Regions from separate parts of the Homo sapiens genome. Here region 2 is reported to be linked to region 1. The links are microRNA targets in miRTarBase. Many come from high-throughput screens and were not tested one by one. Region 1 holds a microRNA gene; the other region holds the end of a gene's coding sequence.

Evidence for each region. Region 1 holds the annotated microRNA hsa-miR-135b-5p (UAUGGCUUUUCAUUCCUAUGUGA, at 5,723-5,745, opposite strand). A microRNA usually pairs through its seed, bases 2 to 8, with sites in the 3' UTR of a target mRNA and lowers its output. Matches are read on the target gene's strand: a 7mer-m8 pairs with bases 2 to 8, a 7mer-A1 pairs with bases 2 to 7 and ends in A, and an 8mer does both.
Region 2: miRTarBase lists TRIM4 as a target of hsa-miR-135b-5p. Seed matches in the 3' UTR shown: 7mer-A1 at 5,839-5,845.

What each region holds. Positions count from the first base shown.
Region 1 is chr1:205,442,639-205,457,471 of GRCh38, forward strand. MIR135B (microRNA 135b) reads right to left here and starts at 5,760; the gene lies at 5,664-5,760. BLACAT1 (BLACAT1 overlapping LEMD1 locus) reads right to left here and starts at 13,407. Exons shown (of 2, transcript NM_001397426.2): 1 at 13,279-13,407. It overlaps LEMD1-DT (LEMD1 divergent transcript), which reads left to right and starts at 13,420. Exons shown (of 3, transcript NR_148934.1): 1 at 13,420-13,585; 2 at 14,254-14,439. It also overlaps a transcript of LEMD1 not described here. RefSeq lists enhancers at 584-1,096, 2,631-3,142, 3,143-3,654 and a silencer at 7,345-7,554.
Region 2 is chr7:99,882,885-99,897,717 of GRCh38, reverse strand. TRIM4 (tripartite motif containing 4) reads left to right here. Exons shown (of 6, transcript NM_033091.3): 6 at 4,972-7,315. The coding sequence ends at 5,555. Among named protein-coding and RNA genes, the nearest start is that of OR2AE1, 13 kb to the right of the region's middle. RefSeq lists an enhancer at 9,681-10,448.

The DNA of each region.
Region 1 (14,833 bases):
GGAGGCCCAGCTTGAGTCAGCATGGGTAGGTAGGCTGGTTATTTAATAACCCGATTTCCAGCATCATTTACACACCCACTCTGGTGGAGTATATATAGTTAGCAGAGAGCAACCTCCAGGATATATATAGAGCCAAGACACAACTACTATATTTCTAGATCTATCCCCTGCAGCTATCTCTGGATCCCTCCTGTGACAAACCTAGAGAGAGACGGGGATCCAATCTGGGACTTAGGTGGCCTGGGTTCTATTCCTGGCTCTGATGCTAACATGCTGTGTCATCCTAAGCAAGTGGCTACATCTCTCTGGGCCTTCATTACCTCATTTCAGTGTACCAGGAGATTAGGCAAGATTTAACACTAAGACCCCAAACCTAAGGGGCTGGAATCCTAACTTGATCCGGAAGGAGGGAGGGAGGGCAGGTGGATTCCCGTGTAATCAGTTATTGTCACACGTGCACTTCTCTTGCTGGGGATATAAGTCAAGGGTATGATCAACAAAGCAGTCCCATGATTATTGAAAAATACATGGGGAGAAATTGACAGGCACAACAAGGCTAATCTGGGAAGGAACTCCCAACTAAAACAAGCCAGGCAGGTAGCAGCCCCACAAACAGGTCAAGGTGCAGCTCAGGGTCTCTGGCCCCAGAGTGCATCGATCCCCTTTCCTTTTCACCCCACTTCCTTTTCAATGACTGTTCTTTCTTAAAAACAGCAGAATATACCCCCTTAAATGACCCGTTCCTCCCCAGGGTCCTTTGGGGAATTTAAGAAAATCCTGGCTTTTTTTGCTCAGCTTGTCACTGTAGGGAAGGATGGGGAGTGAGGTCACAGGAACCAGAACCTACACATCAGAGGAAAGGAGAGCTAATGAAGCTGGCCAGGAGCTGGGCTAGGGGCTGTAGCCTGGCTCCCGAGAGGTGTTCGAGGGCTGGCTGCCTCAGTGGGATTCCTGGGTCCTTGTATCTAAGAGTAGAAAGTATCATAAACAGGGCCTGGTTATTCTGCTCAGATCTTTGCTCTAAAGTGCTCTGGTTATCCTTCCTCTTCTCTAACAGGGTCTCTAAAAGGGTCCTCACTGTAAGGTGCACAACTCCATGCCCCGGAGGCTGCCTGGGCTCTGTCTGCAGCATGCAGATTGCCGGGCCAGCCCCTGAAGTGGGGGGACATGGGGCAGAGAATTCCAACCCATTTCCGTATCCCTGCCCGCTGTGAACCCCACTCCTCCCTCAGAGTCCCCAGCAGCAGGTACCTGGGGAGTCCCTCTGCCAGGCTGTGGTCTCTGCTCCTCTCTGCTTTGCTCGAGCAGGAGTCCTGTCGACTCTCTTCCCTGACTTTACCCCTTCACCCTTGGCAGAGGGCTCCAGTACCAGCTGGAGGCTCCCTGAAGTCAGGTCCCCTTGCTGCGTCTATTTGAGGGGGAGGAGTCTGGACTAGCACCTGGGTCCACTCCCCACTCATCAGAGCTCATCATGGGAACTCCCCTCCCATCCTCCCCCTCCTTTTCCATGCCCATAGTCCAGGAGGGACTAAGGAATGGAAAAACAGCCCCCAGAAAAACAGAAGCCCAGAATAGGATGGAGAGGCAGGGTGGACACTGGACAAACCTCCTGCTACCACACAGTTGGCTGCATCTGACTGCAAGCTGTTGGCCCTGGCTTCTTCCCCATCCTCCTCTCTGGCTTTTTCCCAGCTCAGGTCCAAGATGGTTTACGGTCTGGGGGCACAGACGATGCCCTGCCCAGCCAGCTTTGTGGGAGCCAAGCAGAAGAGATGCCAATCCATAGAGCATCCGTCCTCCCCCACCACTAGGAGGTTCCTCGGCCTCCCTGCTGATCCTTTCCCTTGGCCTGACCCCCACATCTCTCTGTGCCAGATACTCTCCTGGGGTCCTCCAACCCTTGCACCTCTGGCAAAAATGGGGCAGTGAGTCAGAGACAGCATGAACATGTGGAAGAACCAAGAGAAAGAGGAGACTCAGAGCAGGCCAGAAAGTAAGATAAAGAGAAATCCAGGGCCCCAGGCTTGCAGACCACAAACTCCTAGGTGTCTCGAATTTTGGCAATGTCCTTCATCAGAGTGGGCGGCAGCGGGGGTGGAAGGCTAGGAAGCTATTTAAAAGTGCTGGGGCATGCCAGCAATTCTCTGATAAACAAGAAGAGGGATATTGCGCCCCCCACGACCCATCCCTTCATCTCCCAAGGCAGAGAGCAGAGGCACTCTCAGCAAGGCAACCCCCACCTTAACTCCCCGCCACCCCCCACCCCAGGTAAAGGGCAAAAGAGAAGTGACCCAGTAAGGAGGGTGTGCCCTCGACGCCTCTAGAACAAAGCTGAGCCCTCCGCCCCCTCCCCGGCTCCCTTAGCACCGCGTCTCAGTAATTAAAATATGAATTCACCTTCCCTCCCTGAGCCATTCATCACTGCGAAGGGAAGCAGCTGCGGCTTAGGAGACCGGATTTGGGGGATTAGCTCGGGCGGTGGAGCAGACACACCAGGAGAAAGAATTAAAAACGAAGGGGGTGAATTGGGTTTTCTCTCCCCACCTCCTCCCTCTCCCTCTCCCTCTGGCCGCCACGGAGCCTCCTTCCCCACCCCTTCCCCCAAAGCCTAGCCTCTGCAGGTTTCTGGGAACTGTAGTCTACAAGACCGTGTTGATAAACAGGCAGGCCAGGGGTGGGTGGTGGCACAAACTACAGATCCCAGGACTTCTTCCCGGAGTTGGCACCAGCAAAACTGGGCACAGACCTCCAGTCTGGGAGAAGCCCGCATTCTCCTTGGAGGTTAACTCCTTCTTGGCCTGCTTGAGCCTGAGCTCTAGCCTCTGGCTCACCGAGCTCTCTGGAATCACAGGCCAAGGCCTCTGCCTCCAATGGCCTTCAGAGACCACAGACCCTAGCTTGCCAGACCAGCCACCCTTGTATCTTGCTTGCCCACCTATGGAGAAAGCTCCCTCCACTTTTCCAGACTGCAAGGGCAGCCAAGCATTCTCAGTGGTTCTGAGATTCTTGGGAGCTGGAGAGGTCAGAGCAGCAATAGTCCTGAAATGTCTTTGTGGCCTGCACTCAGTGTTTTCCAGCCTGGCTCGGCAGAGGCTGGCCCACCGTAAGAGTGGGCAACGTGACAGGCAGCAGCAGCTGGGAACCTGGTGGACCAGACTGTCAGCGCCAGAATGAACCCCAAAGGTCAAACTTTAGTGTCAAACTTTCGAAAGATGGGGAGAGAGACTTTTTTTCCCCAATAGTCTTTATATTTAGGAAGGAGTAGGGCTTAGTAGTCAAACTCTATTTCCACTAAAAATGGAACAAATACAATAAGAGAGAGTCATCTGAATTCAGTGTTGTTAAACATGGGCCCACTCTCGCAAGGGAGGCCTTATGCTGGGTATATCTGAGGACTGTAAAAAAGACTTAGATTGCTGGGAATAAAGTTTCAGCCGTCTGCAGGCAGGGGACAGGACACACACAGCCCTCTGATCTGTGAATCCTCCAGGGAGAAGGGACATGAGGGCAACTTGCTTATTCAATGCAATTGAACAATCATGTGAAATATACAATCACATATCTTCTCCAGGCCTGTCCCATTGGCAGTAGCCAAGAGACAAAGAATAGAATGGAGATCCACCTTTGTAACCCCCAGAAGCAATCCAGGCCCAGCCCCAGCAAAGCGAGGACTGTCTCGGGTGAGTTGCTGAGCTGTGGGCTTGCTCTATGTCCCTGCTGGTGGCAACTTACCTCTTTTACCCCATCCATCTTTTCTCCCAGTTCGTACTTCATTCAACAAACATTTACTCAGCCATCCCTACAAAGTCCCTTGCCTTGCTAGAGCTTTACAGAGGTATAATCTCTGGAATGGCTCATCTGTACCCTTCCTCCTAGGCTGAGCCCAGTGCTGGGGACTACCCGGGCAAACTGAACAACAGGATTCCCGGGAGGGGCCCAGTTGCAGGGGGCAGGAAGGTGGCATGGCTCTAACCTGGCTTTCCAGTTAGGAGATCAGGAGTTAAGGGAAGGAAATCAGGTGCCTGGACAGCCTCAGAGCAGGGTAGGGAACAGGATAGGCTCACTGTGGGCCCAGGGCAGCTGGACAATGAGGGAGGTGGAGGAAGGTGCCAGCCATCTCTGAACTCTGGGTGAGAGAACCCAGAGGGCAAGTAAGAAACCCTGGCCAATTCTCATGCCTTGTTCCTTTCACCATCTAAGCTGGGGCAGGAGGGGAAGTAGCCTGGATCAGCCCCAGCAAAAACCCAGCTGGCTTGGGATTTCTCTTTGCTTCTCCTATTGTTCTGATCCCCCCGCTCCCCCCGACCTCCTGTGGGAAAAGGAAAACCAGTGATGGACAAAGGGTGATTGGAGTTGGGCCACGGGGCCAATTTGTGGACGTGCATCCAATAGAGATCTCGTGAGAACAACCTCCCGTCTGGGTACAGCACTCCCTGGTTTTCAGAGTACTTTCCCATGCACTGGTGTTGGCTCTCCCAATATGCAGCATGATGTGCTAAGAGCATGGGTTTTGGCACCAGACCACGTGGGTTCACGTCCCAGTTGTGCTCCTTCCTATCCATATGAACGTGGGCCAATTTCTTAGCTCCCTGTGCCTCAGAATTCCCATAAGTTAAATAGGCTAACAGTAGACAGGACTGTCTTGAGGATGAAATGGGTTAGTGCAGGTGAGGCGGTTAGAATCATGGGGTACATAGTAGGTACCCAGTAAGTGTTGGTTGGTGAAATTAAGGGCTCTGAGATATTATAAGAAACTTGCCTTCTGATTGTCAATACCAAATCTAGTGCTTTCTGTGATTCTTCAGTGGTCTGTCTTAGACAGACTGGGGACTGGAACAGGGAGTAGGAGGCGGGGTACGAGGATGCTTCCTCTTCCACCACAGCCACCTGTTGGAATCTTCCAGGATGGGAGGGCTAAAATCAGGCCGATTTAAAAGGGGGCAGGGGAAGGAATGTGGGAGTGGCGACAGGCATAGGGAGGAGCCAGGCAAGCTGAGTGACAAGCAGGACGGGGGCAGGGAGGGCTGGTGCCCTTCACACACCGCAGGAGGGGGCAGCTCCTGGAGATGGTAGCACACCAGGAGCCAGGGACCCTGGAGTCCAGCCTGTCGCCCGGGGGAGCGCCTGCCTTCCTAGTTTCACTCTGCAGACACCTCCTCTTCCCTCGTGGCCGGCATGGAGTGTTCCCATTTCAGCCTCAGAAAGAGCCCAGAGGTCTCCTTACACAGAAAAAAGGCTGCAGATTCCAAGCTGACCTCAGAGAAAGGAGTGAAGGAGTGAGGTTTTCCTGGAGGCACTGAGCAAAGGCCCAAGTCTTCATGGCCTGAGGCCCTTGACTTCAGCCCCCAAATCTCTGGCCATAAGCCAGGCCTCAGTAATTTGGCAAGGGGGAAGGAACCGACTCAGAAAGCTCAGCACACCCTGAAGGTCTCCTTCCTTCCTCAGAGGGAATCTCCCTCTGGAATCACCGGCCCAGTCTCTTCATTCCAGAGTGAGGAAACAGGGCCAGAAGGGAAGTGACTGGGCCAAGGTCACACGGCTTAGCCCCGATCCCAGGTTACCAGATCCCGTGATGCCCCACCCCCAAGCAAAGCCTCCTTCTGGTGCCCCTTGGTGGCTGGCTCCGAACCTGGTCCCATGGGAGGTGCAGCTGCGCAGGAGAAGGAGCTCGCCCCTCACTGTAGCCCATGGCTTTTAGCCCTACATGAGTTTGGGACAGCAATCACATAGGAATGAAAAGCCATAGGCCACAGCAGAGTGGAGGGGTCCAGCGGCAGGAATCTCATAGGGAAGCGAGAAGCTGGGGCACCCGAGAAGCCCTCACTCCCCTTCTCAGCACCCCCGACCCCAGACCCACCCACACTGCCTCCCTCCAGGACTGGGCCCCCCAGGTTAAATTCTCTCACCATCTTCCACCACCTGCACTAAAGCCATCCCAGTAATGAGTTTCCAGTTCTTGCCCTACAAAGGCCTCACACAATGGTCCTCACTCCAGGGTATGAGGAGGGGTGGCTTCCTGGCCATAAAGGACCTCCTCAAATTCCCTTAATTAGCTTCCAGCCCCCTGCCCAGGGTCCTTAACTACCCCTTCCCTAGAGAATAAGGCCGGATCTTTTCAAGGCTGCTGCTGCCAGTACCCAGGATGGGGGGCCCCAGGTTAGGCTCCCTCTTTACAAAGCTTAACTCTTTCTAGTCCAGCCACTGGAAGCACAGAGGGCAAAGGAGGGTCTGGGTAAAGGAGGGCAGCGATGAGGACCTACCCTTTGTTTAGAGGGGTTAAATAGGTTTCTTGAGTGCCCCCAGGGGTGGGGGCTGGGCCAACCTACCCAGACCAGTCTGGGTGGTTACCGACAACACCCATTCTTGCATAGTTTAGAGGAGAGTGAGATCTCTGTCTCCAGACCTGGTTGGAGTCAGAAAGAGGGCTTCAGCTGAAACCTCCCCAAGCTGAGGGCAGCTCACTCTGGAGCCATCCCTGACAAGGCTGTGGGAGGGGTGCGCAGTGCCCTGCCGCTCTCATTGGCAGGACATGGGGGTTAGCACAGACATCTCTAGGACTGGATTGAAGAGCTGAGTTAAGGCGAACCAAGGTCTCAGGGCCCTGGAAAAGGTGTGTTCTAATCACAAGTGCTATTTCCCCACCCGCTCCCATGACGGGTCAGCTGCAGGCATCAGCTTCAGAGAAGTGGGCTTCTAGGGCTCCTGCTAGCCCAGGCTCAGGAAAGCCCCAGGGGCCTCAGACCTCTCCCAGGGGCCCCCAAGAAGATGGTAAGAGGCCCCAGGCCCAGATCAGGCCCTGCCTCTGCCAGGGAGTAGCTGCCTCTCCCACCCCAACTGTACCCTCAGCCCCAGGGCAACACTTGCTGGCTCCCTGCACAACCCTGGTAGAAGCAACCTGTTTTCACTGGACAGGAATCCTGCATTCCCCAACAACAGCACAGCACAGCACAGCACACAGCACACAGCACAGCACAGCACGCCCCTCCACACACTCCAGACATGCCCAACCTTCAGGGCCAAACAACCAGGCATCCTGCGGCCTCCCACCTGAACTTTGGGCCATCTGCCCCAGCCCCAACCCCCTCTGGTTCTCCTTTCCTTCCTCTCTCATGGGCCCCCAGAACCCCAGACCCAGGCCCTGCATAAAGCCATGGACTCTAGGCAGAATGCCCTCAGCTCCCTCCCAAGGGATGCTGGGCCAGGGGCTGGGGGTCCCAGGGGCTGCTCACCTGGCGGACTCAACAAGGCCCCCTTTCCCTCGCAGTCCGCCTCACAATTCCCCGCAGAGCCACTTCCTGCCTTCCAGGCAGCCACTCACTCCTCCACTCACCCCGAGAAGCTCCACGCCCCAGCGAGGGCAGGCCTCCTCCCTCCCCCTGCCCGCCCACCACCGGCCAGGGCTGAGCTGTACCCAACTCAACTTGACTCACTTGTGACCGGCCCCTCCCCCAGCCCTGAGGACGGTGGGGGTGGGGGTGGGGGCGGGCTGGGCAGGCGGGGCAGCCAGGTATTCCTTCAACCCTGACTTGGGCCTGAGTAACAAAGGTCTCATTGAGCCTCTGGCTGTCTGGTCGGTGAAGCACAAACCTCTTGTATCTACTGGCTTTTGATCTCACTCCCTCTGAACCAGCCATGTATTACTCACGTCCCCCTGCCGGGCTATTGGTGCAGAGGGGCTGTTTGGTCCCTCCCTCCCTCCCCATCTCCTTTCTCTCCTTCCTTCCCCTGCCGCTCCCCTCCAGCTTTTTTATAGTTTAATTTTTGGCAGGAGACCTGAGACGGCTCCCTGCAGGCCCCCCTCTCCTGCCTGGCCCCCCTCCCCTTCTCCGCAGCCCTGGTTCCTCTCCTCACCCATACCCCTATTCTGCTCCCACCACTCCCCTGCCCTGGGAGGACAAGGTCAGCACTTATCTGTCCTTCCATTTCCTTTCTCAGACCTGCTCGAGCCTGGCCCCCTCCACCCACCCTCACCCAGTCCTGCGCTCGGATTCCCAGCCATAGCCTGCCAATCCCAGCTGCCTATCCCTGGGCACATGAAGGGCTCAGCCCCTGGCCTGCCTACCAATCCCAGCCCACCTGACAAGCCCCAAGTAAGCTGTGGAAGTAGGGCATCTCTCTCTAAGGTGTGTCTGGGCCAGAGGGACTGGGCTGGGGATGGAGGTGGGGACAGCCATCATGTCTCAGGCTGGAGTGAACCTCACTTGAAATATGGAGAAAGAGGAAGCAGGTCAAGCCTCACCTCCTTTCCCGAGGAAAACCCTGCTTCCTCCAATCCCGAGAACCTGGGCAGTGAAAGGCCACTGCTGGGCGAGAACCTCGAGGACTCCCTCTCCTCAAGATGGGGCCATGCCCACGATTCCTGTCTCCTCTGGGGCCACCACAACCTTTCTGCAGCTTGCTGGTGGTGAGAACTGGGGCCCAGCAGCCCAAGGGGCCCAAGGGATATCCACTGTGTATAAGGGCCACCTCACAGGGCCACTGGAACATTTTCTCTTTAGCTTCCCCTGGCTCTGTCCCCCAGGATCCCTTTCCTCCCTTTCCTCCTTGGCCACTCCAGGGAGAGAGGCAGTCACCTTTGAGGTCTGAGCTCTCCCCAGAAATGCCAACAGATGCTAAGAATTCCCATGGTGGCCAATTCTAGAGCCTTGCCCATCCCCCACACCTACCACCAGTGGCCTCCTCTCCACTTCAGGAGTTTCCACCCCTCCCTAGCCCTCAGGTACTCCCATTCAGCCGGATTTGGGAAACTTCTGCCCCAACAGAGGCCCCATTCTTCCTGCCGCAGGCTCCCATTGTCCCTCATGACTCCACACATTCTTGGGCCTCTGATGAGAAGTGGAGACAGCCACCCGCCCTGCTTGCCTGCCCTTGCTGTCAGCACAGCCTGGGCCCTGCCGCCTGTGGCAGGAGTTGGGGGGAGTGGTCGGGGGGGTAACCAAGAGGGAATAAAAGGAGGTGGGAGACAAAACAGGAGTGAGGGGGAGATGGAACTGAGAGACACAGAATGGAGACACTGAGAGAAATTGTGAAGAAGAGGACAGAGGTGATAGCAGATGGAAATGCAGAAGAAACTCAATGGGAGAAAAAAGGCGAGAAGGGGAAAAGCAACTTTTTTTTTTTAGTGAAAACTGTGTCATGCATCTAGGTCCCCCTTAATGATCATCTTTCAGTAACACAAATATTTATTATTATTATTCCCATTGGGTAGATGAGAAAACTGAGGTTGATGGAGGCTACAACTTGCCTGGATGGGCATTTTTTGCTCTTAGAGGAGAGGGTAGGAGAAGCCTGAGAGAGAGAAAGCAGAGAGCCAGAAAAGAAGAATGCTGACAAAGAGAAACTGGAGGCAGAGGTGGAGCACAGGCAGAACCGGAGGCAGCAGGGAGAGATGAGGGGGCCTGGGGCAAGAGGCGGAGGGAGGGCTGGGGAGAAGAGACCTCAGGTGTCCCTGGCCTGATTGGCTGGTGGGTGTGCCCTCCCCTCCTCTGTAGTAACAAGTCCCTTAATCTTAGTGCAAGCTGCAGAAGCCAGGTCCAGCATGAAAACTAAAGCCTGTTTCACTGGGGAGCAGGCTGCAGCAACTCCCTTTTTAGGGAGCCCCCAGTCCCACCATTTCCTTCAAGGGCACACAGTCACCACCCTGGACCTCAGCCCACATCAGGGCACTGGTTGGAGATGGCTCTGGTTGAGGCTAAGCCAGGAGGAGAACTCCTTTGCCAGAAAAGTGAACCATTACCCCTCCGCAGCAGAGAAAGTCACAGAGGGAAGGGCCAGGGGGGCAAACTGGGCTCAGTCCAAGAAAGGAAAGAAGTAGGACTGTTCCAACAGGAGCCAGTGGGCTCCCTGTCACCAGAGATCATCAAACATAGGGTGCACAGCCACTTCTCAGACCCACTGCCTGGCACACAGTAGCTGCTCAATAAATGGTAAGCTAATGTAGAAGGGATCCTTGCATCTGGAATTAAGTTAGACAGATAAAACCTAAGGTCCCAACAACTCCAAAATTTCATGAGTCTACGTTGGAGCTTACTCATCCTCTCAGAGCCTTTCATAGACTTATGTACCCTTTGCAGGGACTTAGAGCTCAGCAGACCTGCCTTTGCCTATGGTGGAAGGGAACCAGGACATTAGGAAGATACTAAATAAAAGCCACTTGCTTTTACCACCCCACATATACTCCAATCCAAAAAGACTAAATCAGAAGCATTTCACATTATTCTATGGATGTTGGCTGAATGGTATAGGTATACATTCAATGAATGAATGAATGGCTGATAAAGCTTGGAAACAAGAGCAAGAGATCTAAGCTCTCCTGTATTTCAGGCTTGGTGTGTGCTTGGAGCTCCCTTATGCCTGTCCCCTCAGGGAAGAGAGTCCCTGGGCTGGAACAGGTTATGGGGTGTGAGTGGGCAGCAAAGCCTGGAAATCTAATTCCACTCACATGGGGGTGGGAAGGCACTGCTGAAACTTCAGAGAGCCTCAGGGGATCTGATTCTGCTATCTGCCCCAAACAAGCCTGCAGATTCGGAGTTGTGGTTGAGACGGATCTGTGGGTGCAGTCCCTGGCCCAGAACCAACGCACGAGAAGGCTAGTTTCATGAAGATGGACCCAGCAGGCTCCCACATACATTGTCCTCCAGACCTGCACTAGACCAGCAGTGTGCTTGCTACGGAGAAAGGCCACTAGGTAGCCTTTCCCCATGACTCCGGTCCCCTCTGCTCCGAGGTCCCATCTCTACTCCAAAGGATGGACAGCTCAGGTTCCCTCTCATTTAACAGCTTGGGAGCCCCCAGCCCCCTGAGGTAAAGTGGGGTGGGCACTGCTCCACTGAGCAGGAAAGCACAATTTTTCCCCCAAGGGCTTTCTCTAGTTGTTCCAGGAGCCTCAGTTCTGAGACTTCCCAGGCAAACAGAGGGAGGTCCTAGCCTGGCAGCCCTGGGTTCTTAGGGAAGGGAGAGACGGGAGACCTGGCAATAGTCCCAGGCAATGAAGATAGCAAGAGACCCAGGGGCAGGAGAGCAAACACGGGCAGAAGCTGGGGGAGTCTCCGCAGCCTGGGTACCCCCAGCCTCTGCATCTGATCTCCAATAAGCTCCAAGGTTGGGCTGTGGGAGGGAGGACACAGGGAGGTTCTTGTGTTACAAGAATCTAGCCTCCCCAAGTCCAGGACCCAGGCCACAGTTTTGCCTCTCAGCCAATAAAGCTGTTAAAGAAAAATATAAGAATGGGTCATTGGCAAACTCACATGCATTTCAACCTGAGCAATTTATGAATATCGAAATGTCTCAGTGTCTGCCCAAGCACTATTCCTGCCCCCACCCCTTTTCTTCCATGCCCCTCCTCAACCCCCATGGGGTGATGGTGCCCCAGCCCAAAGAACTATGGAACTGGGCTCTCCCAAGCCCCTGTGGAGTACCTCTTGGAGGAGGAGGCAGACAGAGATGAAGGGTGGGGAGAATGGCTTCAGGGACACCACTCATTTATCAAATATGCACCGAGCACAGACAGTGGGATGGGCACCGTGCTAGGCACCAGGAGACAGCACTCAGGGAGGCCCAGCAGGCAGTCCAGTGGGAAGACAGGCCCATATGCATATGACTGCAATTCAGAGCAGTCACGTCAGCAGGACTGTGGTCTCCCCTGCCACCCAGTCTTCATGTCACCTCTTCCAGGGTTACACTGAATTTGATCCTCCCTAGTTGAGGGTCTCTCCTTCCTCTTCATGCCTTTAGGATGGTAGTCCCCAGCTCTGAGACTCCTGGATGTTCTCTTTGTGTGTGTGGGGTGCGTGGGATGGGGGTGGGGGGTGGTGGTGTATGGGCAATGGGAGGGGCCCTGAGTCTCAGAGAGTGCCCAATACTACTTGGAGGAAGTGTTATCTGGTGTGAGTGTGTGTGTGTGTGTGTGTGTGAGAGAGAGAGAGAGAGATCCTCTTTTCCTGCCTCTGTGGCAGCCCCAGTGGAGCAATGGAAAGCCGGCATTGAATGACTGAGAGATAGAAGTTGTTTGCAGCCCCAGGCCTCCGTTGTGTCCTCCTGGAGGGCATAAGCCACCAAAATTACCCCTAAAGGGGGTTTCTTAGAGGACAATCCCTTTCCCCTCAATTCAGAGCTCTTTCACCAGGGGTTCCCATCCCAGCCTCAAAAGAGCTGACTTTTCCTCCAAAGTTAGCCCTTCTTAAGGCTCAAGTTGAGAAAAGTTGTTCACTGGCAGATTAAGGTATGTAAAAAAAAAAAAATCGTCAGGAAAGATTAAATCAGACCAAAAGAAGAATTTGTTAATGAGGGTTGAGGAAAGGAAGGCAGTATACAAGCACTTCCAAACGGAGGCTGTGGAATGTTGGTCGGAAGGGAGGGCTCTCCCTTGGGCCCCCAGACGCCCTCTCCTGACCAGCTCAGCACTGGCAGGGCTGGCCAGCTCTTGTTCCCCGGGGGCACCCTGTTATGGACCCTTTCTCAGGAAAGGGAGCACCTATCCTTGTCTAGCTGCCTTCCTGGGCCCCTACCCGGCCAGAGCTCCTCCTCCAGGTGGGCTCCTAGCTCCGGCCTTTCTTAGGCATGCAAGGGCCCCAGGGATGGGGAGGCAGTGGGAGGCAGGCTTATGGCCAAGAGGTCTGGCCAGACCTAGACCCCACAGACACAATGGCTAGGAAGGACTCTGATGTGTGTGGGGAGTAGCTGGTGTCTCCTCTAAGCCTGGGACCATGTTTGCCTCCACATATACTGGAGTTGGTGGTTTGGCCCACGGACATGGCTTCTCCCAGGCCCCAAACTGGGGTCTCCTGGGGCCCTCTGTTCCAAGGGTACCAGACAAACATATGCACAGGTGTCACAAACCCCTGATCCCTAACCCCTTTACAGCCCCTTCCTCATACCACTCCATACCATGGGGTATAAAGGAAACGGAGGAGGCACTCCAAGCGGGTTTCACTCAGCGGGGACAGGAGGATCGGCTACCTCCGGAGCCAAGGCTCCCTCTCACACTCCCCCCAATCCCACCAGCGGCAAAATCCTTTAAAAGGAACAAAGGCAATGGGGGCGGGGAGGGGGCTTCCTCTTTGGTCGACCTAGGGCGGCGGCTGACGCAGCCCGCCGCCGGTCAGCTTTCAGGTGAGTGCCTGAACCCGCATCCCGCCCATGCCTTAGGGACCCCTCTTCGCCCAGCCAAGCCCGGGGCGGGGAGGAAAGTCCCCCTCAGCCGCACTCGGGCCCCCAACCCGGCCAAGGGGTCGCCAACTCGCGGCACTTTCTGCCTGTTTGTTTTCGCTCAGTACTCACAGTTTAGATGCTAAGCCGGCTCCTCTTGCACTCACTTCCTTTGTGTCTCTCTCTCTCTTTCTCTCTCTCTCCCCCTCACCAATCTCTTTCTTCCCTCCTTGTCCGATTCTCTGCTGTAGCTTCCAGTGGAGAAAAATAATTATTCTTCAATGGGTTAGCACGGGGCGCACGCACACACGCGCGCGCACACACACCCCGCCGAGGTACCCAATCAATGCACAAATCTTCGGGGTCCCTTTAACCTCTGCGGATGACTCCGGGAGTTAATTATGAAGCCTATTTCGGCGCGGCATAAATATGCATTAAGGTAGGAAATAATCGATACGCTGAACTTCTGGGAACTGGCATTTAGACGGACTCCGTCTCGCCGCCCCCCACTCCCTCCATGGCCCCACGAGCCACCTCCACAGCCTCGCGCCTTCCCGGGGTCGCAACGCCTATCACAAGCTTCTACCCGGGTTTCAGGGGGCCCCTGTAGTGGCGTGGGCGCCGCGCCGGTGCCGGGAGACCCCCTCGTGCGCCCTCTGCGGTCGGGGCAGACCCTCAGCCGGAGCTTCTTCCTCCCCCACCCCTGCAGGCCGGGCCCAAGCTGCGACACCCCCAGCACGGGCTCAGCCTGTGAACAAACTCCGAGCTCAGTACTCGGAGGAACTGGCGAGAGCGGGACGGCTACCTGCCCGCACGCCCGATTTCCGGGCACAGCTAGAAAGACCGGGACGCGATTCAACTCCCAATCCGGTGAATCCGCCTAGCGCCTTCGGGTCCTGCCGCCCCCGGCCAGTCCCGACCCGCACACATATGCAGGCATTTGCACACACGCGCGCACACACATGCACGCACATGCACACACACATATGCACACCCTCGCGCACACAGACACTCCCGCGCGCGCTCACGCCCGCACACACTCAGGGTTATAACAAAGGAAGAGGGGCCAGCGCTGCCTTACTTTTGTCTCTCTTCTCTCTTTTGCAGCCCCCCAGCCCCGGGGCCGGCGTGCCCGGCCCACCCCGCCCTCCGCGCCCCCCGACGGCCGCGGTCAGCCGGCATTCCGGAGCAGCGCGTCGGAGCTGCAACTTCGCGCCTAAGCGCCCGCACCTCGCAGCCCGGCGGGCGGGAGACAAAAGCTGCGGCGCCGCCGCCGGAGGCCGCGCGGCCAAGGTGTGTTCGCTAATTGTCAGGAAATGTGTGTGTGTGCGGCCGGGAGCCCGCAGGGGCGGGGGAGGGGACGGAGGAAGAGGAGACCCACCCCTCCTACCCCCGCCACTCGCCAGCGCCGGGTACCCGAACCGGGATTAGAGAATAAATTATCTGCTCTCTTCTCATTGGGCTGTGGCTGAGGACGCCGTCGGCGGCGCCGGGCTGGGAGCTCTCCCGGCTCTTTGCATTCACCGCACAGCTCCGGCTCGCCTCGCTTCGTGGAGGCCGAGAGCCCGGGGCCTCGGCTCCAGACATCAGGGGACACCAGCCGGCTGGCCGCGCCGCCCCGCCCCTCCCCTCCCCCGCCACCCGGCTTGGCCTCAGCCCCCTCCCCTCCCAATTCTGGCTTGGGTCT
Region 2 (14,833 bases), not on the chromosome of region 1:
ACAAGGAAGACTGGGATTCATTATTTTGGAAATACAGGGGGTTGGGGAGTAGGATGTAAAATAGGTGTGACCTGTATATTCTTTTCTAGGCCTTTCCCCCATGGAGTGCAAGAACCGACTTGAGAAATCTTTTGTTCTTTTTTTTAGTTGCTACATAATAATTTTACATATTTATGAGGTACAGTGTGATGTTTCAATACATGTATACAGTGCATAATGATAAAATCAGGGTAATTAGCATATTCATCACCTCAAACATTTATCATTATCTGCATCGGGAACATTCAAAATCCATTTCTACTAAGTGGGAGAGTGTAAAATCCCAGGGAGGGTGGGATCGACTGTCTCCCACTCTGTTTGAACTTACTTCCCAGCTTCACCATTTCCACAGCGGTATAATCCTGCATTGTGGTGGTCTGCCTTCTTTCAGGTGGAGGCAAGTCTTGTAGGGCTACCCTCTGTGGGTGTGGTTGGTCTTCTTTTATCTTGGTAGTGACCATCAGACATGCTGAGAGGATGGGAACCTCTATGGACTCATCCCAGTCCTCATCCTCCCTGCCACTAGATCTCTTCACGGGGTCCCAGGACTTAGGGTTCCAGGACAATTTAGTCATGATAGTCCTAACTCCATGTGGCAGTCAGTGACCCTTCAAACAGGCTATGCAACAAACCAGTGTCTCCATTTTGTCATCCTGTTCCCACAGGTGGGACAGAAATTAGCCTGAGCTAATATCTCCCTAGTTGCAGCTCATCTTGTAAGTGGTACACCCTTGCCTGTGCCACAAGCTCAACCTTGGGGGCTGCTCTAAGCACAGTCAGGACTGGCCGGCCAACTGCAGCTGCCACAGCTTGGGCATTTGACTTTCCCTTAGTTGGATCCACCCCCTGCAGCAGTTCTTCCAGAACTTTTGGCATTTTGGGGGTATCCCCATACTCACCTGGTGGGCCCCACCCATCAAGGATAGTGGCTATTGGGCCCCACATACATGTGGACAACCAGCCCAGGATTTCCACCGTGGATTCTCCCCTGATCCCATTGTCTTGGCACTCGTGGAATTTTCTCCAACCTCCTGCTGGGCTAATTGTTGTGCTAGACCCCTATTGATTTCAGTACGGATGGCACTGTGTCTGAGAGGTGGAAGAAACCTGGAGCCGGTGAATGAGACATAGGATTTATTGAGGACTTATATGCTGGGTGGTCCAGGAGCAGTGGGCTGGACACGAAAACCAGTTGCTACTGTTTGTAAAAAGCATGCAGATTATATAGCATTTTCACTTAGCAACCTGCTCCTAACAACCTCCATTTAACCCGAATCAAAGGGCCTTGATCCTCTGTACAGCCTGCATTCCAAGAATGGGCCAGAGGTTCAGATGTTCAGATGTCCTTCCTAGAAAAGGAGCAGATCTCTGAGTTGGCCACTCCCACATTTCTTAGCTTGGAAGTGTGAACCCACATTCTACTTGGACCATAGGGTCATTGTTAGGGTATGCTTGAGTTATTGCTGTCAGGTGCATCTGCCATACGATACCATAAACCTTAAACCACTAAAATAAAAGAGATGTAGCTAGTCAATAAAAGGAAATAAAGTGGAATTATAAAAAAAGATTAATAAAAAATAAGGCAGAAAAAGAAGAAAACATATAGGACAAATAGAAAACAGCAAAATAATAGACACAAATCTAATCATACTAATAATCACATTAACTATAAATGGTCTGCATGCGCTAATCAAAAGGCAGAAGTTGGTTGGATTGGCTAAAAAAAAAAAATAAGACCCAATTTTTTACTGGAAAAGAAACACATTAAATATGAAGAACCATATACGTTTAAAGCAAAAGAATGGAAAAAGATATGTTAATAGATCTGGAGTGGGTATATTAGTATCAAAGTAGATTTCTGAGCAAAGGATATTACCAGAGATAAAGAATGTTATATCCTAATGATAAAGTGGTCAGTTCGTCAAGAGAATGTAAGTTCTAAACATTTCTGCACTTAACAGTGCTTCAAACATATTAAGCAAAAACTAATAGAGCTGCAAGAAGAAATACACAAATTCACAATTACGTTTGCAGTTTTCAGTACCTTTTAATAATTTTTAGAATAATTAGGCAATAAATCAGCAGGGATATAGTAGACTTGAATAATATTATCAATCAACTTGATCCCATTATTTATAGAACACTCTACCCAACAGCTATATACTACATATTTTTTTCAGTGTACGTGAAACATTTTCCAAGATAGACTAAGCTGGCTGTAAAGCAAGTGTCAAATTCAAAGGATTCCGATCATTCAGAGTATGTTCTCTGATCACAATGGAATTGATAGAAATCAGTATCAAAATATCCTTAGAAACCCCCCTAAATATCAAGAATCTAAATAATAGACTTTTTAGTAACCCTTGAATTAAAGAAGAAATCAAAAGGCAAATTAGGAAGTAGTTTGAATGGAATGAAAAGGAAAAGACAATATACCAGAATTTGTGGGATGCACCTAAAGCAAAACTTAAAGAAAAGTGTATAGTGCTATATTGGAAAGAAGAAACTTCTCAAATCACTGACCTCAGCTTCCACCTTAAGACACTAGAGAAAGAGGAGCAAGTAAAGCCCAAAGTAAACAGAAGAATGGAAATAATAAAAATCAGAGCAGAAATCATTGCAGTGAAATACAGAAAGCCAACAGAAACCAATGAAACCAAAAGCTGGTCCTTTGAGAATTTCAGTAAAATTGACACACCTTTAATCAAAATGATCAGAAAAAAAGAAAACACACATTACTAATGTCAGAAATGAGAAAGGTGACATCATTACAGATTCTGCAGATATTAAAAGGATAATAGAATATTAAGAGCAACTTTTTGCCAATAAACTTGACAATATAGATGAAATGGATGAAGTCCTTAAAAGACACAAATTACAAAAGCTGACTCATGAAGATAGAGATAACTGGAATAATCTTATTTCTATGAAAGAAATTGCTATTAGAAACCTTCCAAATGGCTTTCGTTTTGTTTCTTTTCTTTCTTTTCTTTTCTTTTTTTTTTTGGGGGGGGGATGGAGTCTTGGTCTGTTGCCTAGGCTGGGGCGCAGTGGTGCAATCTCAGCTTACTGCAACCTCCACCTCCCAGGTTCAAGTGATTCTCCTGCCTCAGCCTCCCAAGTAGCTGGGACTGCAGGTGCGCGCCACCATGCCTGGCTAATTTTTGTATTTTTTTTTAGTAGAGATGGGGTTTCACCATGTTGGTCAGGCTGGTCTTGAACTCCTGACCTCGTAATCCACTGCCTTGGCCTCCCAAAGCATTGGGATTACAGGCATGAGCCACCGCGCCTGGTCCCCAGATGATTTTCTTGGTGAAACATTTCACCAAACATTTAAGAAATAAATGCCAATTCTTCAAGAACTCCTATTGAAAATTGATGAAGAGGGAATATTTCCCAATTCTTTCTGTGAGGCCTGTATTACCATGATGCCAAAATCAGACAAAGACGTCACAAGAGAAAAGAATTATACATCAATGTCTCTCATGAACATAGATACCTAAATTCTCAGAAAACTTTAGCAAATTGAATCCAACAATATATTAAAAGGATAATATGTAATAATCACAACCAATTTATATATCCTTTGGTATACAAAAAGGATAATGTATAATAATCACAATATGTGAGATTTATCCCAGAAGAGCATAGTTGGTTTAATATTTGAAAATCGATGTAGTTTATATCACTAAAGTAAAAAAAAAAAAAAAAGGAAAACCATGTGATTGTCTCAGTGGAAGCAGGAAAAGCATTTGTCAAACTCTAGCATACATTCCTGATTTTTTTTAAAAAAAGTCCTCAAACTCAAGAGACATGGAGAGTTAGAGGGAAGGGAATTTGGAGTCAGGGAGGCCAGGGAGGACATTATTAACACATTGAGTGACACTGGAGATTGGAGTAAAGGCAGTGGCAATGGGAGTGGAGGGGAGGAAAAGAACCTGAGTGACAAATTTCAGAGGTAGAATTGGTAGGACTTGGTGACTAACTAGCTATTGAAGGTTAGAGGAAAGAGTCGAAAATAAAGATTTAAAAGCATGAGTGTTCAGGTGGAGGGGACTCTGACACCTTAGAGAACATAGAAGGCAAGATGTCTGCATATGAAGTGGATTAGTCCCGAGAGTATAGAAGGGGGTGTAAGTAAGATAATTAGTTCAGTTTTGAATGATCTGTGGGGAGATTTGTGGAGATGCCCCATAAACAACTGGAACCCGTGAAAAGAGACCTCATTATTCTGTCCTATGTGACACCTGTGTGTATCTAGCCAAAGAACCAGCTAGTCGGCAGCCTTGGTTCTAGTTTTGATTCAACGTGAGAATTTGTTAATATCTCTCCAAATTTTAGGCTGTTTGTGAAAACTTGGGGCATGAAATAATTAGATCCCCAGTTTCTAGAGGTTAGTCTTTTTTTTTTTAAAGATAGAATCTTGCTCTGTCACCCAGGCTGGAGTGCAGTGGCACGATCTCGGGTCACTACAACCTCCGCCTTCTGGGTTTAAGTGATTCTTCTGCCTCAGCCTCCCCAGTAACTGGGATTACAGGTGCCCACCATCATGCCGGGCCAGTTTTTTTGTTTGTTTGTTTTTTGGTATTTTCAGTAGAGACGGGGTTTCGCCATGTTGGCCAGGCTGGTCTCACTCTCGTGACCTCCAGTGATCTCCCTGCCTCAGCCTCCCAAAGTGCTGGGATTACAGGCATGAGTCACTGCGCCTGGTCTAGGGCTTAGTCTTTTAGAGCAGAAGGGAAATGAGGACTTCAGGTTGCTAAAGGCCATGCTGTGGCCTGCTAGGCCTGGCTGAGGATCAGTTGGGCAGCAGTGGAGTCATGAGTGTTTGTTAGGAGGAGAAAGATGAAACTGATGCTGGAAAAGATGGGCATTTCTGGGGAAGGGTTGATGATAAGCTGCTGCACTACTTAGCTCTCATTTTCTCCACAGTGGCTGTAAACCTAGCTGAAGACACAGCTCATCCCAAACTCGTCTTCTCCCAGGAAGGGAGATACGTGAAAAATACAGCATCAGCCAGTTCTTGGCCAGTGTTTTCTTCAGCATGGAACTACTTTGCTGGATGGAGGAATCCTCAGAAGACTGCTTTTGTAGAGAGATTTCAGCACTTACCCTGTGTTCTGGGAAAAAACGTTTTCACCTCAGGGAAACATTACTGGGAAGTTGAGAGTAGAGATAGTCTGGAGGTTGCTGTTGGGGTGTGTCGGGAGGACGTCATGGGAATTACTGATCGTTCAAAAATGTCCCCAGATGTGGGCATCTGGGCGATTTATTGGAGTGCTGCTGGCTATTGGCCCTTGATAGGCTTCCCTGGAACTCCCACCCAGCAAGAGCCAGCTCTCCACCGAGTGGGGGTTTACCTGGATCGTGGGACTGGGAATGTCTCCTTCTACAGCGCTGTGGACGGAGTGCACCTGCACACCTTTTCTTGTTCTTCTGTCTCACGCCTCCGGCCATTTTTTTGGTTGAGTCCATTAGCATCTTTAGTCATTCCACCAGTGACTGATAGGAAATGAGGCTTTTCTTCCCCTGACCAAAACTCCTTCCCTGTAGTCCAGCTGAGGGACACACATCCCTGGGCCCTCTTCTGCCCTTCATGTCTCTATCCTGGATGGTCCATCTTCTGGGTCTCCCTAACGGTACCGTTTGGTATCTGCCCTTTGTGTGCTTCACAAGAGGCAGTCCCATGGGAGGTGGGTCTGGCCAATGGAGATGGGACAGGAAATTTTCCAAGACGCTTTTGGGAAATCTTTTTGTAGCTTTTAAAGAGATGTGCGGGGAAGACATATGGATGTTAGCAGCCATATTGGAACTGAGAACACAGGAATGGTGGAAAGGTAGAAGAAACAGAGTTTTTGTTGCCGTTGTGAAATTGTTGAAATTTCCTTCATGCCAAGCTTCTTGTTATATGAGATAATTACGCCCTTATTGTATAAGACAATTTTAGTTGTATTTGGTTACTTGCAGCCTGAAGTACCGTAACTGCACTAAAGGGACGTAGTGTGAACATCCCGCAGTATAGGCTTAAGTCACTTTTGTGAAATTTGACAAAGGCATAGAATCTTTTTCTATCCAGTCAGGCATTGCCTATTCTTTCCAGTAACTACTGATTCCCCCACTTTTCTGTCTTAGAAAATTGTGGGAATCCCCCCTCACTCTGCCTATGTTGCACTCTCTCTCTTCCCAACCATAACTCTGCCCTCAGCTATTAACTGTGCTGTGTATTTATCAAGTTGGTATGTTGTATGTACAGTGTTATTCATGTCATCATGAGAATGTTGAACGCTTGTTAAATATCTTTTGCTAGCCTCTTCATATGCTGTTGCATATGACTCTCATCACAACTCAGTGAGATGGAAAGTCAAATCCTATTTGTACAAATGAGAAAACTGAACTCTTTAGAGTAACTAGCTCAGTATTGGCCAGCTGGTAAATGGCAGTGTTGGGATTAAAATCCAGTTCTTATCTACTCTCCCTTTATTCAGAAGCATTTATTGGATGTTGATCTTTGTTTCAGGTTTTGATTTTGTTACTTTTTTATACTGTGTATATTTTCCTCAGTCTACCCTTCTGCTCTAGATTGTCTGGACTCAGGAGATTGTGGCAGTTACTGGATAGTTATTTTTAAGATAATGATTGCTTTTCTCTGTTTATATAAGTCATGTGTACTTATTGTAGAAAGTTTGTAAGATGCAAAAAGTATAAAAATTAAAGTTATGCACTACTAACATTTCAATATATTTTCTCCCAGATTTTCAGTAAAGACTTTCAGGCAGTGATTTAACGAGGATTTTATTTTAACTTATATTTTAGTTTAAGGGGAACACGTGCAGGTTTGTTCTATAGATCAATTACATGTCACAGGGGTTTGGTGTACATATTATTTCATTACCCAGGTAATAAGCATAGTACCCAATAGATACTTTTTTGATACCCCACCCTCCTCCACCCTCTACCCTCAAGTAGTCCCTGGTGTCTGTTGTTCCCTTTTTTGTGTCCATGGGTACTCAATGTTTAGCTCTCCCTTATACGTGAGAACATGTGATGTTTGGTTTTCTGTTCATGTGTTGGTTTGCTTAGGGTAATGGCCTCCAGCTCCATCCATGTTGCTGCAAAGACATGATCTCATTCTTTTTTTATGGCTGCATAGTATTCCATGGTGTATATGTACTATGTTTTCTTTATCCAGTCTACTGTTGATGGGCATTTAGGTTGATTCCATGTCTTTGCTATTGTGAATAGTGCTGCAATGAATATATACATGCATATGTCTCTATGGTTGAATGATGTCTTTGGGTATTGGGCATATACCGAATAATGGGATTGCTGGGTTGAATGGTGGTAGTGAGGATTCTTACACAACTTACAGCATCTTCCCTAACTCCTCCTCCCCTCCTCCCCTTCTTATACATCAGCCATCTTGGCTTGTCTTCCTATTCAGCCTGAGCAGCCCCCTCATTCAACAGTTTCTACTGAGTTCTCAACTTCCCAGGATATTTGCTGTTATAGGTTGAATTATGTTCCCCAAAAACATATGTTGAAGAGCTACCTGTGAAAATGACCTTATTTGGAAATAGGATATTTGCAGATGTAAACAAGATAAGGTCATTTGGGTGGGCTCTAACCCAATATGACTGGTGTCCTTATAAAAAGAAGGAAACTTATGCATATGTTCACACACTCATGCCCACACACACACAGAAAAATGCCAGATGGAAACAACGTGAAAGAGGCTCTGGAAGATGGAGGCAGAGATTGGATTGGAGTTATGCTGTCACAAGCCAAGGAACCTGGGGCTACCAGAAGCTGGGGGAAGCCAGGAAGAATCTTCCCCTAGAAGCTTTGAAGGGAGCATGGCCCCATCAACACTTTGGTTTCTGATTTCTAACTGCCAAAACTGAGGTTAGACAGTAAATTTCCATTGTTTTAAGCCACCCAGTTTGTTATGGCCACCTTAGGAAATGATGACTACACTTGCCCTTCAGGACGTCCTTCAGTGCCTGTCTTACTAATAGCTAATCCTTTGGAAACTCATCAGTACCTTCCCTCCTCTCTTCCTTCTGGCTATTGAAAGGTTGATTGATTCTGCTATAAATCCTTGCTCTCTGCCTTCAAGTGGGCCCTTTGAGCTGCATGGTAAACTTTTTTTATCACTTGACTTGTTTTAACGTCTTTGGTGGCAATGATTCCAAACTTTTCCTTTTAAGCCTTCATGAGTCCCCCTTCATACGATTGCAAAGAACTTGCATCTTCAACAGAGAAAAAATTCTTTTCCCCTACCCTTCTTATTCTTCACAATTCTTTGTCTCTGTGCTTGAGTCTTGATATTGACCCCTCTGGTCTCATCAGGTATGGGATGGGACCTAGGTGTTCATTTTTGTTTAAAAAGCCAACCAAGTCCCTCTCCCTCTCCCTGTCCCTCTCCCTCTCCCTCTCCCCACGGTCTCCCTCTCCCCACGTTCTCCCTCTCCCTCTCTTTCCACGGTCTCCCTCTGATGCCGAGCCGAAGCTGGACTGTACTGCTGCCATCTCGGCTCACTGCAACCTCCCTGCCTGATTCTCCTGCCTCAGCCTGCCGAGTGCCTGCGATTGCAGGCGCGCGCCGCCACGCCTGATTGGTTTTCGTATTTTTTTGGTGGAGACGGGGTTTCGCTGTGTTGGCCGGGCTGGTCTCCAGCTCCTAACCGCGAGTGATCTGCCAGCCTTGGCCTCCGGAGGTGCCAGGATTGCAGACGGGTCTGGTTCACTCAGTGCTCAATGGTGCCCAGGCTGGAGTGCAGTGGCGTGATCTCGGCTCGCTACAACCTCCACCTCCCAGCTGCCTGCCTTGGCCTCCCAAAGTGCCCAGAGTGCAGCCTCTGCCCGGCCGCCACCCTGTCTAGGAAGTGAGGAGCGTCTCTGCCTGGCCGCCCATCGTCTGGGATGTGAGGAGCCCCTCTGCCTGGCTGCCCAGTCTGGAAAGTGAGGAGCGCCTCTTCCCGGCCACCATCCCATCTAGGAAGCGAGGAGCGTCTCTGTCCAGCCGCCCATCGTCTGAGATGTGGGGAGCGCCTTTGCCCCGCCACCCCGTCTGGGATGTGAGGAGCGCCTCTGCCCAGCCACGACCCCGTCTGGGAGGTGAGGAGCGTCTCTGCCCGGCCGCCCCATCTGAGAAGGGAGGAGACCCTCCGCCCAGCAGCCGCCCCGTCTGAGAAGTGAGGAGCCCCTCCGCCCGGCAGCCACCCCGTCTGGGAAGTGAGGAGCTTCTCCGCCCGGCAGCCGACCCGTCCGGGAGGGAGGTGGGGGGGTCAGCCCCCCGCCCAGCCAGCCGCCCCGTCCGGGAGGGAGGTAGGGGGGTCAGCCCCCCGCCCGGCCAGCCGCCCCGTCCGGGAGGGAGGTGGGGGGGTCAGCCCCCCGCCCGGCCAGCCGCCTCGTCCGGGAGGTGAGGGGCGCCTCTGCCCGGCCGCCCCTACTGGGAAGTGAGGAGCCCCTCTGCCCGGCCAGCCGCCCCATCCGGGAGGGAGGTGGGGGGTCAGCCCCCTGCCCAGCCAGTCGCCCCGTCCGGGAGGGAGGTGGGGGGGTCAGCCCCCCGCCCGGCCAGCCGCCTTGTCCGGGAGGTGAGGGGCGCCTCTGCCCGGCCGCCCCTACTGGGAAGTGAGGAGCCCCTCTGCCCGGCCAGCCACCCCGTCCGGGAGGGAGGTGGGGGGGTCAGCCCCCCGCCCGGCCAGCCGCCCGGTCCGGGAGGGAGGTGGGGGGTTCAGCCCCCCACCCGGCCAGCCGCCCTGTCCGGGAGGTGAGGGGCGCCTCTGCCCGGCCGCCCCTACTGGGAAGTGAGGAGCCCCTCTGCCCAGCCACCACCCCGTCTGGGAGGTGTGCCCAACAGCTCATTGAGAACGGGCCATGATGACAATGGTGGTTTTGTGGAATAGAAAGGGGGGAAAGGTGGGGAAAAGATTAGAAATCGGATGGTTGCCGTGTCTGTGTGGAAAGAAGTAGACATGGGAGACTTTTTATTTTGTTCTGTACTAAGAAAAATTCTTCTGCCTTGGGATCCTGTTGATCTGTGACCTTACCCCGAAACCCTGTGCTCTCTGAAACATGTGCTGTGTCCACTCAGGGTTAAATGGATTAAGGGCAGTGCAAGATGTGCTTTGTGAAACAGATGCTTGAAGGCAGCATGCTCCTTAAGAGTCATCACCACTCCCTAATCTCAAGTACCCAGGGACACAAACACTGCGGAAGGCCTCAGGGTCCTCTGCCTAGGAAAACCAGAGACCTTTGTTCACTTGTTTATCTGCTGACCTTCCCTCCACTATTGTCCTATGACCCTGCCAAATCCCCCTCTGTGAAAAACACCCAAGAATGATCAATTAAAAAAAAAAAAAAAAAAAAAGCCAACCAAAAAAAAAATCCACCCATAAACTCTTTCCCATGCTTCTTGATATACAAACAGGATTGAAAATAAACTGTCAGTTGTAAACTAAAAATCCTAAGCCTCCCGTCTGACTGAATGAACCCCCTCTTGGCTAAGGGGACTCCGGAGAAACCTGAAAAACAAATTTCTGGCCATGATGGGCTGAGAAGTTAGACGTGTCTCAGGTGCACCTCCTCCCTTTTGGAGTTTAGACACAACAGCTGCCCAACATTAATATTAAAATAGAGACAACAGGATTAACAAAATGGGCTCTGTGACAATAAGATACCAAATTATAAATAAGACCTAAGGCCATGACAGACCTTAAGTCACACACCTTTACAGGTTAGTCTGATGCAGTGAATTAGCTAACAGACTTCCTGTCCTTCAGGGATGTCCTAGAAAGGGGCTGTAGTGCTGCAGTTGTCCACTTTCCGGTGGTATCTGCATATCATGCAGACCTGTCTGCAAGCTGAGGAGCAAGGAAGCCAGTCAGAGTCCCAAAGCTGAAGAACTTGGAGTCTGATGTTTGAGGGCAGGAAGCATTCAGCACAGGAGAAGGATGTAGGCTGGGAGGCTAAGCCAGTTTAGCCTTTTCACATTTTTCTGCCTGCTTTATATCTTGGCTGTGCTGGCAGCTGATTAGATGGTGCCCACCTAGATTAAGGGTGGGTCTGCCTTTCCCAGCCCACTGACTCAAATGTTAATCTCCTTCGGCAACACCCTCACAGACACACCCAGGATCAATACTTTGCATCCTTCAATCAAGTTGACACTCATTATTAACCATCACAATACCCATATATATACACACTTCTAGAATTATTTCTTTGTCTACCCATCTATATTTATATTCAGCTAAGCATGAATTAATACTAATGTCTCCAACTGTAATCCAGCTCCATGAGATTCATTCTAGCCTTCCCTCCTTTCTTATCATCTGTAATTTTCTTCTCTGATCATCCACCATCTGTTTATTTATAACCCCATCATACACGCAAAGCAGATTCAGAATTGTTAACCTGTATCCCAGTGAGAAATTTATCAACTGGAGTACAGTGTTTGTGCACAATTCCTTTTATTTTTCACCTTATGTTTTTCCATCAAAACAGCATTTTCCAAAGTTATTCAGCTCCTTCCCCTACCACTCCATTCTTCAGTGAGATTGTGTAATAAAGATTTGTAATATAGTTAGAGTCATCCTCACAGTCTGCATTTCATCCTGGAATTCTTTGAACATCCTGTTTAATTTTTAAAATTTTGTGTATATCAAAGTTCACTCCTTGTTGATGTATGGTTCTATGGGTTTTGGCAAATGCATGAGTTATGTATTTATCACTCCAGTACCAAATATAATAGTTTCATCATCCTATCATTACCCTGTGTATCCGCTTTGTAGTCATCCACCTGCCCTCCCAACCCCCAGGTGGGAGGGCAGGTGGATGACTCCCAATGTATTCTGCATATATTGATATAATCATATGGTTTTTGTTTTTGGTTCTGTTTATGTGATAAATTACACTTACTGATTTGCATATGTTGAACTAACCTTGCATCCCAGGGGTAAAGCCTACTTGATAGTGGTGGATTACCTTTTTGATGTGCTGCTGGATTAGATTTGCTAGCATTTTGTTTGTTTGTTTTTTGAGATGGAGTTTCGCTCTTGTTGCCCAGGCTGGAGTGCAATGGCCTGATCTCGGCTGATTGCAACCTCCGCCTCTCGGATTCAAGCGATTCTCCTGTCTCAGGCTCCTGAGTAGGTGGGATTACAGGCACGTGCCACCACGCCTGGCTAATTTTTGTATTTTTAGTAGAGACAGGGTTTCATCATATTGGTCAGGCTGGTCTAAAACTCCTGACCTCACGTGATCCGCCCTCCTCGGCCGCCCAAAGTACTGGGATTACAGGTGTGAGCCACCAAGCCCAGCCAAGTATTTTGTTAAGAATTTTTCCATCTATGTTTTTTTTAAGGATATTGACCTGAAGTTTTCTTTTTTTGTTTTGTCTCTGCCATGTTTTTGTATCAGGATGATCCTGACCTCATAGAATGAGGTAGGGAGGAGTCCCTCTTCAGTTTTTTGGATAGTTTCAGCAGGAATGATACCAGCTCTTCTTTATACATCTGGTAGAATTCAGCTGTGAATCCTTCTGATCCTGGGCTTTATCTGGTTGATAGGCTTTTTATTACCAATTCAATTTTGTAACTTGTTATTGGTATGTTCAGATTTTTAATTTCTTCCTGGTTCAATCGTGGGAGATTGTATGTTTCCAGGAATTTAGCCACTTTTAGTAGGTTTTCTAGCTTGTGTGCATGGAGGTGTTTGTTATACTCTCTGAGGTTTTTGTTTTTTTTAAATATTTCTATTGGGTCAGTAGTAATGTCCCCTTGTCATTTCTGATTGTGTTTAATTGGATCTTCTCTCTTTTTCTTTATTAGTCTATCTAGCGGTCTATCAATCTTACTTATTCCTTCAAATATCGACTTCTGGTTTCATTGATATTTTGTATGGTTTTTTTGCACCTGAATTTCATATAGTTCAGCTCTGATTTTGGTTATTTCTTGTCTCTTACTGACTTTGGATTTGGTTTGCTCTTGTTTTTCTAGTTCCTCAAGGTGTGATATTAGGTTGTTAATTTGAGATTCTAGCTTTCTGATGTGGGCAGTTAGTGCTATAAGCTTTCCACTTAATACTGCTTTGGCCATGTCCCAGAGATTTTGGTATATTATATCTTTTGTTCTCACTAGTTTCAAAGAATTTCTTGATTTCTGCCTTCATTTCATTGTTTACCTAGAAGTCATTAAGTAGCAGGTTGTTTAATTTCCATGTTATTGTTTAGTTTTGATTGCTATTCTTATTATTGTTTTCTATTTTTATTGTTTTGTGGTCTGAGAGTGTGGTTGGTATGATTTTGGTTTTTTTGAATTTGTGGAGAATTGTTTTATGGCTGATTGGTTGATTTTAGAGTATGTGCCATTGCAGATGATAAGAATGTGTATTATGTTGTTTTTGGAATGGAGAAAACACAAATAAATGAAAAGACATTCCATGTTAATGAATTGGAAGAATAATATTGTTAAAATGTTCATATTACCAAAGCAACCTACAGAATCAGTGCAGTCTCTATCAAAATCCTGATGGTATTTATTACAGAAATAGAAAAAAATCCTAGAATTCACATGGAACCACAAAAGGCCTCAAATAGCCAAAGCAATTTTGAGCAAGAAAAACACAGCTGGGGACATTACAAGTCCTGATTTAAGACTATATTCCATAGCTACAATAATCAAAACAGCATGATACTGATATAGAAGTTAAAAAGGAATTATTTAGGCAGTTAGTAAGGGTAAAAGAATTCTCAGTGGAATTTCCTTTTAATAAAAAGCAGCCCCCACATCATTTCTTTTCTAACAAAAATCAACCTGAAAAATCAAGCTGCAAGCATTGATACACAAGCTGGAAGCTTGCATAGGTGAATACTGGCAGCCGTGCCGATACCAAAGAGATACCTGGAAGCCAGGTACATCCAACATGGAGGTTTTCTCCTCCCTTCTCTTTGTTGCCAAATGTGCAGATGTCATGGTGCTGGCCAGGTGGAGATCCCACCTGTATAATAAAAGATTAGGGTGGGATGGCCAGCCTAATCACGGGCTATGTAAATGGCACACCTGGTCCAACCAATCCCATGGGCCCTATGAAAATCAGACACTGCCTTTCTAAGCCCCTCTATAAAGTCAACTGCATCTCACCCCAAACCTGGAAACCCACTTTGGTTCCCTTCCTCTGCATGAGGAAGCTCTGTCTTCTTTCTTTCACTTTAATTAAAGTTCTGCTCTTAAACCCACTCCTTGTATGTGTCCTCATATTTGATTTCCTTAGCACAAGACAACGAACCTTGGGTATTTCCCCAGACAAATGATGTCGCTTCAGTATTGGCATAAAAACAGACAGATAGACAAACAGAACAGAATAGGCAGTGCAGAAATAAACCCATGCATATACAGTCAGCTTATCTTCAACAAGTGTGCCAAGAATGCACAATAAAGACAGGATAGTCTCTTTTCCATCCTGGCCAACGTGGTGAAACCCCGTCTCTACTAAAAATACAAAAATTATCTGGGCATGTCGGCATGTGCCTGTAATCCCAGCTACTTGGAAGGCTGAGGCAGGAGAATTGCTTGAACCTGGGAGGCAGAGGTTGCAGTGAGCCGAGATCACGCCATTGCACTCCAGCCTGGCAAAACAGTGAGACTCCGTCTCAAAAAAAAAAAAAGAAAAGATAGTCTCTTTAATAACTGGTTTTGGGAAAACTGGATATCCGCATGCAAACAAAGAAATTAAACCCCTCTCTTACACCATACACAAAAATCAGCATAAAATGAATTAAAGACCAAAATGTAAG